3 separate regions of the Homo sapiens genome follow, and all the other regions are linked to region 1. Evidence: fine-mapped expression QTL. A gene starts in region 1. Each other region holds a variant in brackets. All regions are shown on one strand. Distances are between the middles of the regions.

Region 1 (4,318 bases):
AATATGGCTCACCTTCTTCCTCAGGAGAACAGAGGTGACACCAGGGGCTAAGGGGCAAAGAATGAGTCTGAGTCCATATACTGCTCCCTGATAGAGAACAGCCCTGCGGAAAACCTAAGAGTCAGTCTAGCCAGCCCAGCCAGCCTGGGAGAATGTCCCCCCTCTCCCACCTCCTGAGGACACCTTGAAGTTTTGAGCTTCTAGATATGAGGTCTATAAGCAAACCGTTAAACATGAATACTAACTTAAAAGACTGCCCTCCTGACTCAGAACCCCACTGACTGTGGCCACACTGTTCGTTCTTTCACGCTTACCTCTCCTCATTTAAAAGGGAAATAAACATCATACATTTAACTGACTTAGCTGTCCCATTGCTCCTCCTTACTCTTAAACCAGGAAGGATGGAAAGAACACTTGAGTCAGGGTGGTGGACGTACCAGTAAGGACAGAAAAGTGACCTTGTCCCTTAGAGACCAGCAGTCTAGTGGGGGAAAAGACAGGTATACACATAATTACAACTCCTGGAGTAAAGGGGAAACCGTAGCCCTTAGCAAACTGCAACTCTTACTCTGGTCTCATCCTACTCCTAAGTAGGATAAAAAATAATAAGCTGAATAAACAATTCATCTTATTATTTTTTAAGGCAGGGTCTCACTCCATCACCCAGGCTGGAGTGCAGGGGTGCAATCATGGTCCACTGCGGCCTCGACGTCCTGGGCTCAAACGATAATCCTCCCACCTCAGCCTCCCCAGTAGCTAGGACCACAGGCATGTGCCAAGACGCAGGGCTAATTTTTTTTTTTTTTTTTTTTTTTGAGACAGAGTCTCACTCTGTCTGTTGGCCAGGCTGGAGTGCAGTGGTGCAATCTCGGCTCACTGCAACCTCAGCCTCTCGGACTCAAGCAATTCTCCTGCCTCAGCCTCCCGAGTAGCTGGGATTACAGGCGTGTGCTACCACACGCGGCTAATTTTTGTATTTTTAGTAGAGACAGGGTTTCCACCATGTTGGCCAGGCTGGTCTCAAACTCCTGACCTCAGGTAATCCGCCCGCCTCAGCCTCCCAGAGTGCTGGGATTACAGGTGTAAGCCACCGTGCCCGGCCACGCACGGCTATTTTTTATTTTTTTGTGCATACAGGGTCCCCCTATGTTTCCCAGACTGGTGTGGAATTCCTGGGCTCACACAATCCTCCTTAGCCTCCCAAAGTGCTCAGACTAAAGGTGTAAGCCACTATGCCCTGCCCCGACAATTAAGCTTAGTTCAACCCCGTTATCTCTTCAGGAGCCACAGAGTCTGAGGATATGAAAAGGCAAGAAATTAACTTATTCAACGAATATGTATTGAGACTGTGCTATGTGCCACAACTTCTGCTAGGGCCCCACACTATGATAGGAGGGACCCGCCCAGACATGAGGCTTCACCCACTGTGTGGGCGGCGGTGGGGATGGTCCAGCGGAGGCTGGGGCCCTGAGATCAGATTTGAACGTTACCACTGCTATGGTTTTTGGCCAGTTGTTTCAAAAGCCTTGGACAATCAGCCTAGGCTTCCTAGGCCCATTACAGATCCTCCTCTGACAGGTCCCTAGTGGTCGCTGGCGTGTAAGGAACTGCTAACATTAGCCCTTCAATGTGTCCCAGGGACCAGTAGGCACCTCCTCCTTTATCACGTGGCTATGATATGTTTACATTAACATTCCCCCAGTAGACTGAGATCTCTGATTCTAGTACCTGCACCCAGCGCAGGCCTGGCATTCGGTGGGCGCTCAGTTAATGCCTGGCGAATGAAACCTTTTGCCTCTTCCCTGAAAGCATTCCCTGAGGGCGCACTCGTAAAATGCCCGCTGCATCTGGCCTGGCCCTTTCCCTCCCCGTCGAGTCCATTTTATCCGTCTACCCGCCAAGACAAGGCTGTAGTTTCCGATTGGAGGATTAAGGGCTGCTCTCGGTCGTGCCCTAAAGCTGCAAAAGACTGGTACCCCTGGGCTCCGGCTGACAGCGACCCCGAGCTGGTGACAGCGGCCCAAGGCGACTAACAGCGGGATCTAGCGGAGAAAGGCGCCGCCGCCGTTAAAGGGGGTTGGTCCTGTCCCTAACTTGGGGGCCCCGCCCCGAGATGCGAGGTCTGGAGGGCGCAGCGTTCCAGCACCCACCTCTGCCAGGGCCGTCTCGGCCGCCCTGCTCCGCTGCCCCGGATACGACCAGCGCCGCCATCACCTGCCTGCGCATGTGGTACTAAAAAGACAGCGCTGGAAGAACGCGGAGAGCGCAGACATTGCGATCGATCGCCGATCGGCCAGCGGGGGCGGGGGATACCCGCTGGGCGGGGCCATAAAGGAGGAGATAGGGGCGGGGCTGTAGTGGGCTCCACCCCAGCCCAGAATGCCGGGACTCAGGATTCCCTAGAGGTCCCCGACTATGCAGTTGCCCTTGCCCTGCGACTTAGTCTCCCACTCCTCTCCCCGGCCGGGCACGAGCCTGGCACTCCCGGACCGGTGCTCTCCTATGTGCGAACTCCCTGCACGAACTCTGCAGGCCGAGTCTTGTGAAGGGGACACCCACCAGATGTTCCTTGAGCCCCCCCTGCCAGTCTCCCCTCCTGGTAAGCAGTGGTCGGTCACCCGGCCGCCGTGTGGGGCCACGTTCCCTACCTAGGGGGACTCTACTGTCCGGCAGGACAGAACTCAGGGACCACCAGCCCAGCTCCAAGTTGAGAGTCTTGGTGCAGGTTTGTGGATCGCCCTTATCAGCTTTTTAAATTATTTTTTTTGAGACAGGGTCTTGGTCTGTCGCCCAGGCTGGAGTGCAGTGGTGCGATCATGGTTCACAGCAGTCTCAACCTTCTGGGCTCAATTCATCTTCCTGCCTCAGCCCCCTGAGTACCCGGGACCACAGGCGTACGTTCAGCTAATTTTTTTTTTTTTTTTTTTTTTTTTTTTTAGTAGAGATAAGGTTTCACTATTTTGCTCAGGCTGGTCTTGAACCTCTGGACTCAAGCAATCCTCCCACTTTGGCCTCCCAAAGTGCTGGGATTACAGGCGCGAGCCACTGCACCCAGCCTTTATCACCTTTAGAATCCACTGCGTAGACCCTGTAGAAACTGCCCCTCTGGGGAAGGCCCACAGCCTGAGGGTGCTTTCCTGGGAAGGTGGGCAGTGGAGGACTGTGATGTCTAACCCTTCTGGACCCTGGCCAACCTTTGCCCTGCCCCTCAGGGCTGGTCTTTCTCCTGATCACTGGCCAGAGCCCCAGAGACCCCAAAGAGAAGACAGCCAGTGAGACGGCTTTGACCTGTGGAAGAGCAAAGTACCTGCAGGACTGGCCCTCAGCAGTCTGTCCCGTGGAACAATGGTCTTCCAGGTCTGACGGTCTACCCAGCCCCCTGGCATCCTCCTCCTCTCTCTGCGGTGGTGCTGTGATCACAGCTGGCCCTTTAAGTCAGCTCTGTGTCCTCGGGCTCCCCCAGAGGCCCTCCCTGCTTGGAAACCCCTAATTAAGGTGCAGGGAGAAGTAAAAACAAGCAGCCAGAGACAGGCCCTGCCTGGGAGGCTGCCCAGAGAGGAGGAATGGCTGGACAGGCAGGGAGTGAGCAGCTGAGGGACCATCACCAAGGGTCAGTGCTGTGCCCCCCAGGCCACCGGCACTCTTAGGACAGGTAGCTCTAGACAGAAAAGTGACCAATGTGGGTCCCAGGAACACTCCCCTCAACTCGATAAGCGTCCGGACTAGACCTTCCCATCTCCCCCCAGCTTCTCTGGATCCCCAGGGTGCAAGATCTGAATTCTGGGAGCTCAGCCCCTCCTCTCTCAGGACACTGCTGCCCAGCCTGTGGACAGCCTTAGCTGTGACTGCAGCATGGAGTTTCAAGGGGAAAGGACTGGCTCCAACTGAGCAATGGCTTCTCCCTAGCAGGCGCCATATCCCTTGGGACCTTTCCCTCATCAGAGGTGGGGCCTGTTTGATGGCAAAAGTCCCATCCCTCTAGTAACATTGCCCCGCACCCGCTGTGCCTAATGAGCTGCTCTGGCCCCCATTAGGAAGCCGGATGATGCCTAGGAGAACTGGACATGAAGAACAGATGTGAGAATGCTTCCCCAAGACTCCGTGGTGCAGGACATTGGGGGCTGCCATTCAGCTTGGGCTGAGGGCACCTCCATCTGTCTGTGGGGGTCTCCCTGCCTGAGTTACTCAGCAGTCTGAGTAATTACTGCCTGACAAGAAGGCGGGCACAGTGCACCCCCACAGTACACCACAACACCCGCCTTCACTCGCCCCCACTCCCTGGCTGGACTCCAAGGCAGCACCCAACCCTCCTGAGGCC
Region 2 (4,000 bases), 31 kb after region 1:
GGCCAGGCGTGGTGGCTCACACCTGTAATCCCAGCACTTTGGGAGGCTGAGAGGGGAGGATGACTTGAACCCAGGAGTTCAATGCCAGCCTGGGCAACATAGTGAGACCCCATCACTACAAAAAAAAAAAAAGTAAATGAAAAACATTATTATTGTTATCTTTATCAAGTGATTCTCAGACACAGAGGGCAGCCTGTCACGTCTCCTATTCCATGACCCTCCACAGCTCACAAAGGCCTGCGAGCCACAGCTGTTTCCATGCAGTATTCCCACCATCCCTCCAAGAGGGGCTGAAGGTGAGGCTGGGTGGCATGATTTGGAGCCTTGCCCAAGGCTGCTGGACCCGTAGGTAATAGAACCAGAACCCTGCCAGCTGCAGTGGCGCACCCCTGTAATCCCCGTACTTCGGGAGGCTGAGCTGGGCGGATCACCTGAGGTCAGGAGTTCAAGACCAGCCTGGCCAACATGGCGAAACCCCATCTCTACTAAAAATACAAAAATTAGCCAGACGTGGTGGCACGCCCCTGTAATCCCAGCTACTCAGGAGGCTGAGGCAGGAGAATGACTTGAACCTGGGAGACGGAGGTGAGCCGAGATCGCACCATTGCACACCAGCCTGGGCAAGAAAAGCGAAAATCAGTCTCAAAATAAATAAATAAATAAATAAAATACTAAAATTAGCTGGACATGGTGGCATGTGCTTGTAATCCCAGTTACTCGGGAGGCTGAGACTTGAGAATCGCTAGAACCCAGGAGGTGGAGGTAGCACCGAGACCATGCCGCTGCACTCCAGCCTGGGCGGCAGAGAGAGACTCCATCTTAAACAAACAAACAAACAAAAACTGGAACCCAAAGTAGGACTTTGTGTCCCTTCCCTGCCTCCCGTCCTGACATTCCTTCCTCTGCCCCATCCTGCTTCCTAACAAGGCACCCAATATCCTTGGCTCTGGGCTCCAGGAGCCAACCCAGGAAGCAAACTAGGAAAGGCCTGGCCGGGCTGGGTAGGGACACCTGGGGCAGCGGTGGCTGCTACTTGGCAGACACGCCTTCTCCCTGACACAGCTGTCAGCCTTTGCAGTTCTGCTGAGGCAGCAGCCCTGGCCCAGGCAGGCTTCCCTCCCTCTGTGCTGGGTACATGCACACAGGGCTGGCTGCAGATGGCCGGCCTGTGCCCCTGCACCCATCCAGGCCCAGGGACCCTGGCCTGCCCAGTGGTCAGCACTTGGCCACCTGGCCTCCAGGGCCCCACTGCCTGCCCCCCTGGGGACAGGCCTGCCCCAGCTGCTCTGGGCCCTAGACAGGAGAGGAGAGGCGAGAAGAGGCAAGGCCGTGAGGCCGGAGGGCAGGAAAAGCCGGGAGGGAGGTGGCTATTTATAGCCAGCTTTGCTTTTGTTCCTTTTCCAGCAATGCCTCTCTTTAAATAGGAGCAGGGCTGGAGGCTGCAGCTCTTCCCCAGCCGCCTGCAGTCAGCACGCAAGAGTGTGTGTGCCTGTGCGTGTGTGTGTGGGGGGGGCATGTATAGGGAGTGGGCACTGCAGTGTGTATTTGTGCATGTGTGCAGGGACAGGAAGAAGAGGCTGGATGTTCTGTGTACGTGTGTGCTTGTGTGTACACCGACATGTACAGGGTGGCAGTGGGTGAACAGCTCTTTGTGTATGGGTGTTGGGAGCTGCATGTGCACATACGTGGATAGGGATGGGGCAGTTCATGTGTGTGTGTGTGTGTGTGTTTTATTTTTTTCGAGACGGAGTCTTGCTCTGTTGCTCAGGCTGGAGTGCAGTGGCGCGATCTCGGTTCACTGCAATCTCCTCCTCCCGGGTTCAAGTGATTCTCCTGCCTCAGCCTCCCGAGTAGCTGGGATCACAGGCGCGCGCCACCACGCCCGGCTAATTTTTGTATTCTTGGTAGAGACGGGGTTTCACCATGTTGGCCAGGATGGTCTCCAACTCTTGATCTCGTGATCCGCCCGCCTCCGCCTCCCAAAGTGCTGAGATTACAGCCGTGAGCCACCGCGCCCGGCCGGTGTGTGTGTGTGT[GTGTGTGTA/A]TGATGAGCACACATTCAGTGCAGCGTGTGTGTGTGTGTGTGTGTGTGATCGCGCATGTGTCTGGTGTAGACTGGCGTGAGCAGCTCTCTGGGGCGAGTGAACATCGCTGTAAGGGGCTGTGGAGTGGTCCCCGCCCTGTGTGTGAGAGGATGGCATCGTGCAGGGAAGGGGGAGCAGCTCTTCAGTTGTGCACAGCCGACTGGAACCCTCGGTGAGGGCAGGGCCTGTGTCTGTTCTGCGCGTGGGATGAGCGCGTAGAGAATAAAGGGGCTCCGGGGTCGTCTTCGGCTGCCGGGAAAGTGCGTCAAACCCGCGTCCCCAGCGTTTTTAGGGCCCTCGCAGAGCCCCACCCCCACCCCCACCCCGGGGTCCCCGTGCGCGCGAGGCCGCCCCTGTCCCCGTCTGTGCTGCGAGGCCCGTGAGGGGAGCGGGGCCCGGGCGCTCCGGCAGCGCCAGCTTGGGCAGGAAAGCGCCGCGGCGACCTCGGAGGCCACATCCCGGCGAGCCCAGGAGGAGGCGAGCCGGCCCCACGTCCCCCACCCTCCGCCTCAGCGTTCACGTCTGTAAAGTGGGGGCAGGAAAGCCGCCGGGGATCCGGCAGGGACCTGCGCGCTGGGCAGCGGTGGCCGGCCCGGGGGCAGCCGCGGGGAGGGGAGGCCCGACCCGAGCGGGGCGCGTGGGGTGCGCAGATCCCCGGCCGGCGGCTCCCGCGAGAGGGAACGGATCCCAGCGCGGCCGCGGCTCCCCGCGCGGTAACCCCGATCTCTCAGCGCGGGCCCCCGGCTCTAGAGCGAGAAGACCCTCCCGGGCGGGGCCGGTGCCCAAAGGGCGCGCTCGGCTCGGGTCGGCCTGCGGGAGGCCTTGGGGCGCCGGGTCTGGGCACCGCCCTCGCCCTGCAGCTCCGGATCAATGCGACAGCCCTCCCCGCCCCTCCCCCAAAGGCCAAACAAAACATAGTAAATATTTAATCCGGGCCAGGGAGCCAAGGAGGCCTCCCCGCCCCCTCCGCCGCCGTCTGGCTCCCCTGCCAGCCCCGGCAGCTCTCCCTCGGTAATGAGGCCGGGAGAGGCCGGGATCGATCGCGGCCTGGGGCGGAGGCGGGGGTGGGGGTGGGGCGCCCGGCACCCTGAGGGGGACATCGCTGCCCGCCCCCAGGCCCCAGACCCAGGAGCCCAACCGAAGGCACCTGCGCCCACGCTTTCCCCAGAAGGCCTGCGAGGAGCGCGCCGGCCCCTGCCGGCCTGCCCTTGTCACCTCCCTTCTCAGAGGGCGTCAGCTGGGGTCGGGGGTCTGCGGGGATGCAGGCCCGAGTAGGAGGGCTGTGAAGGGGGCGGGGACCTCCCAGCCCCGGCTCAGGCCTGACCTCCGAGTCCTAGTGGTTTAAAGCCAGCAGGGGCTTGGATGAGGCCTGGGTGGGGCAGGGGCAGCTAGGGGTGCCCTAGAGGGAGGCTGGCGAGGTGTTCCTGTACCTTGGAGTAGGATACCTTAGTGTGCTGGTGGTGCTCCCGATTTCCTGGGCATTGCCTGGGGAATACCTAGAGGGGACGGTGACATCCTCACTGCTCATTCATGCAGTGGTTTATGATTGAGCACCTACTATGGGCCAGTCATACTTGTCGACTACCAGACAGACAAGTTCAGACCTGCAGAGGGATCGCATTCCAGAGAGCGACAGTTAATAAGTAAACACATGCGATGATTTCAGATCGTGGTTGGACTCAGTGTAGAGAATAAAACTGTTAATGTGATATTGTACTTGGCCGGGAGAGGAGCCACATCAGCTGGGCTGGTCCTGGAGCTGGCTGAGGACGATGGGTTGGGGAAAAAGCATCCCAGACAAAGTCTGTAGGAAGTGCAAAGGCCCAGAGGCAGGAAATAATTTGCGAGGAAGGCCAGTGAGGTTGATTGTCGTGAGTGAAGAAGCAGGTAGTGAGCGGCAGATCCCTGAAGGTCTC
Region 3 (4,289 bases), 49 kb before region 1:
GCTGTCTAGGGCATGAGAGGATGTGGGCAGAGAGCAGAGCTGAGCAGGACACTAAGAGTGAGTCAGTCCTGCAGTGTTCTCTCTAGCTCTACCCGTTTTTCACTCTACCACTAAATTCTGGTAGCAGGTTTGGTGCCTAGAGTCTCCCTCATCCTGGGCTCCAAGGCAGGGGTACGGTCTTCTCAGAGACTCTGAGAAAAGCTGCTTCCCCAGTGAGAATCTCCAAATGCACACCACACATACATGATCTTTCACACAATGTGAGGGGTTTCAGAGTTTCCCTGAGCCTTATCCAGATATCCCTGGAGAGGCTGTGGATTCTTACTTCAGAACGCCTGTTCCCAGGGAGAGGATGGCATGGCCACAGTCTGCTTGCCTGGATTCCCAATGAAATGGAAGACTCCTCTGGACAAGATACTCCCTACACCCTTGCAGAGACAAACTACTTAATCTCCACACAGGGACTTTGACCCCCATCAGCCCTCTCACGGGCCTGTGCCTTCACCCCCAGCAAGTGTTTCTTCCTGGCCTTCTAGGTCTGTTCCCTTGTGCTGTGAGGCCGTTTGCTGTCCTCTAGGGCTCGGGGCAGACAGGGAAGAGGCAGTCCTGCTCCCCGTTTAAAGGTGAACCGTGTGCATAGGGAAGCATCAAGCCACCCACTCCGCTTCTTTAAGGATGCCCATTTCCAACCCTGTCCTTTGGCATAGGGTTTGATGCATGTGATCAGGCAGACCCAGTGACAGTCTAGGCCCTGCCACCTAAATAGCTTTGTAACATGGGGCAAATCATTCAGCTTCTCAGAGCCTGTTTCCTCATCTGTTAAATGAAAGTGCTGGCCGGGCGCGGTGGCTCACGCCTGTCATCCCAGCACTTTGGGAGGCTGAGGCGGGCGGATCATGAGGTCAGGAGATTGAGACCATCCTGGCTAACATGGTGAAACCCTGTCTCTACTAAAAATACAAAAAATTAGCTGGGCATGGTGGTGCACACCTGTAATCCCAGCTACTCAGGAGGCTGAGGCAAGAGAATCGCTTGAACCCGGGAGGCGGAGGTTGCAGTGAGCCAATCTTGCACCATTGCACTCCAGCCTGGGCTACAGGGTGAGACTCCATCTCAAAAAAAAAAAAAGAAAAAAGAAAAAAGTGCTAATAGCACCTATCTCTCAGAGTCACTGTGAGGCCTACACGAGACAGTGTATGTAAAGCACTTAGCATAGTGCATGGCACTTAGTATGTGCTCCATGAACGGCCACCTTTGTCTGATATTTGTCTAATCACCCTGGCCAGGGAAGAGGAATAAATACCAATCGAGAGCCATCTTTTTTTTGTTTGTTTGTTTTTGTTTTTGTTTTGAGACAGAGTCTCGCTGTGTTGCCCAGGCTGGAGTCCAGTGGCATGATCTCAGCTCACTCCAACCTCCACCTCCCGGGTTCCAGCGATTCTCTTGCCTCAGCCTCCAGAGTAGCTGGAATTACAGATGCCTGCCACCATGCCCAGCTAATTTTGTATTTTTAGTAAAGACAGGGTTTTGCTGTGTGTGCCAGGCCAGTCTTGAACTCCTGACCTCAGGTGATCTGCCCGCCTCTGCCTTCCAAAGTGCTGGGATTACAGGCATGAGCCGTCACACTGGCCAAGATCCATCATTCTTTTGTTTTGTTTTGTTTTGTTTTGTTTTGTTTTGTTTTGTTTTGTTTTGAGATGGAGTCTTGCCCTGTTGCCCAGGCTGGAGTGTAGTGGCGCAATCTCAGCTCACTGCAACCTCTGCCTCCCGGGTTGAAACGATTCTCCTGTCTCAGCCTCCCAAGTAGCTGGGATTACAGGCGCCTGCCACCATACCCAGCTAATTTCTGTATTTTTAGTAGAAATGGGGTTTCACCATGTTGGCCAGGCTGGTCTCAAACTCCTGACCTCAGGTGATCTGCCCGCCTTGGCCTCCCAAAGTGCTGGGATTACAGGCGTGAGCCACTGCGCCCAGCCTCCATCATTCTTTAGACAGATTCACGTCCCTGCTACCATTGGAATCAGTGTGTAATACCTCTACCAGCATCATCCATTGTCATGTGGCTGCCTCCCCAGCCCTGCTGTGGGTCTACATGTAAACTTGTGCATGATCCTCAAAACAGCTTTATCCTCATGCTTCTTTTACTTTTTTTTTTTTGAGATGGAGTCTCGCTGTC[G/A]TGATCTCAGCTCACTGCAACCTCCACCTCCCAGGTTCAAGTGATTCTCCTGCCTCAGCCTCCCAAGTAGCTGGGATTACAGGCATGCACCACCACGCCCAGCTAATTTTTTTTGTATTTTTCGTAGAGACCAGGTTTCACCATGTTAGCCAGGATGGTCTCAATCTCTTGACTTCGTGATCTGCCCGCCACGGCCTCCCGAAGTGCCCTTATGCTTCTTTTCTTGCTCTTCCTTACCATCTGTTTTCCCAGAAATTCTGTTTCTACCGTTATTTCTTGACTCTCAACCCAGCAGTTATGGAAACTGTTGCGTCAAAAGTCACCAATATGGCCAGGCACGGTGGCTCACGCCTATAATGCCAACACTTTGGGAGGCCACGGTGGGTGGATCATTTGAGATCAGGAGTTCGAGACCAGCCTGGCCAACATGGTGAAACCCTGTCTCTACTAAAAATACAAAAGTGAGCCGGGTGTGGTGGCGGGTGCCTGTAGTCCCAGCTACTCGGGAGGCTGAGGCAGGAGAATCTCTTGAACCCAGGAGGCGGAGGTTACAGTGAGCCAAGATTGCGCCACTGCACCCCAGCCTGGGCAACAGAGCAAGACTCCATCTTAAAAAGAAAAATCACCGATGACCTATCTTCATCAAACCTTAGTCTGTGTCATAGTTGACCAATCACCAATGACCTATCTTTATCAAATTTCAGTCTGTGTCATAGTTGACCTCCCTTTGTCTTTGGGCCCTAAAGCCACCTTCCTTCAGCTTCCCTTCAGCATCGATGAATGACCCCTTGTCTTCTCCCTGTTCGCCAGACCACCCTCCTGGGCTTCCTCACCACCATTCTTTTTTTGGTCTCCTCCATCCTTCCTTTTACTCCTTAGTCTCAGCAAGCTGAGTTAGTGCTCAGCAGATATGTATTCAGTGGCTGGGCGCAGTGGCTTATGCCTGTAATCCCAGCACTTTGGGCAGCCGAGGCTGGCAGATCACTTGAGGTCAGGAGTTCAAGACCAGCCTGGCCAACATGATGAAACCTCATCTCTACTAAAAATACAAAAACTAGCTGAGTGTTGTGGCGGGTGCCTGTAATCCCAGCTACTCAGGAGGCTGAGGCAGGAGAATCACTTCAACCCAGAAGGTGGAGGTTGCAGTGAGCCGAGATCGAGCCATTAGACTTTAGCCCTGGGCGAGACTCTGTCTCAAAAAAAAAAAAAAAGTATTCAGTGACAATAATAGTAGCAACTAGAGCATCATCTTAAATTCCACTCTGGCTTTTAACCCCTAGTATCTAATTTCATATTAAATACTATTTATTCACACATTTATTCCCTCTTCTCCTCTCTGTTTCCATTGCCACTACTACTATTCTAGGTCAAGTAGTTGCTTAGAGTGTAGCAGTCAAGGCCCCTGCATTGCACAGCCCCAGAAGGTGCCATTTGCCTTGTTTCTGTAAGTGGCACCTCCTGGAGTTTGTAGCATACCAGGCTCCTGCCCACCAGGCTCCTATTCACTGCACTGCCTCCATCATTCTCTTCCTGAAAGAGCCACTCCCCTGCTCAGAAATCATCAGGCCTTTGCTTGGCTAGTAAAAAAAAGTCTTAATTCCCTATTATTGGCATTTAAGGCTTTTTGATCTGTTCCCAGTCTGTTTTTCCAGCCTCTTCTCCCACTACCCCATCCCTCATGAACCCTTACTAGTTATATGACATTGGGCAGATTATTTAACTTTTCTGAGCCTGTTTCCTCATCTTTATAATGAAAGTAATGCCAGACACAGTGGGCACGTGCCTATGGTTCCAACTACTCAGGAGGCTGAGGCTGGATGATAGCTTGAGCCCAGGAGTACAAGGCTATGGTGTGCAGTGATCATGCCCGTGAATAACCACTGCAACATAGCAAAACCCCGTCTCTTAAACACTTTTTTAGTGAAAGTGGTAAAAGCACCAATATTAGAGCTGCTGTGAGGCCTCGGAATGAACCACAGTGCACGTAAAATGCCTGTGCAGACACTAAGGCCCTCCTGCCTGGACAGTGACACCCACCTTCCTTTCCACTCCCTAGGCATGCTCTGCCTTTTTCCACTCGGGTTTTTGTTCATGCTGTCCCTCAAAGCAGAGT

Evidence for each region. PIP is the estimated chance that this variant, and not a neighbour inherited with it, causes the effect. A credible set is the group of variants that fine-mapping cannot tell apart.
Region 2: its variant is the best candidate, but not a certain one, in a credible set for the expression of DPH1 in Th2 cells (Schmiedel 2018, PIP 0.63).
Region 3: its variant is the best candidate, but not a certain one, in a credible set for the expression of DPH1 in whole blood (TOPMed, PIP 0.87).

Annotation. Positions count from the first base shown.
Region 1 is chr17:2,028,063-2,032,380 of GRCh38, reverse strand. DPH1 (diphthamide biosynthesis 1) reads right to left here and starts at 2,228. Exons shown (of 13, transcript NM_001383.6): 1 at 2,151-2,228. The coding sequence starts at 2,211. RefSeq lists enhancers at 1,297-1,888, 1,889-2,480.
Region 2 is chr17:1,997,187-2,001,186 of GRCh38, reverse strand. The region is part of intron 1 of RTN4RL1 (reticulon 4 receptor like 1); the gene reads left to right. Among named protein-coding and RNA genes, the nearest start is that of RTN4RL1-AS1, 19 kb to the left of the region's middle. RefSeq lists an enhancer at 692-1,202. The variant GTGTGTGTA/A (reference allele first, on the strand shown) is at 2,037.
Region 3 is chr17:2,077,480-2,081,768 of GRCh38, reverse strand. The region is part of intron 15 of SMG6 (SMG6 nonsense mediated mRNA decay factor); the gene reads left to right. Among named protein-coding and RNA genes, the nearest start is that of SMG6-AS1, 10 kb to the left of the region's middle. The variant G/A (reference allele first, on the strand shown) is at 2,177.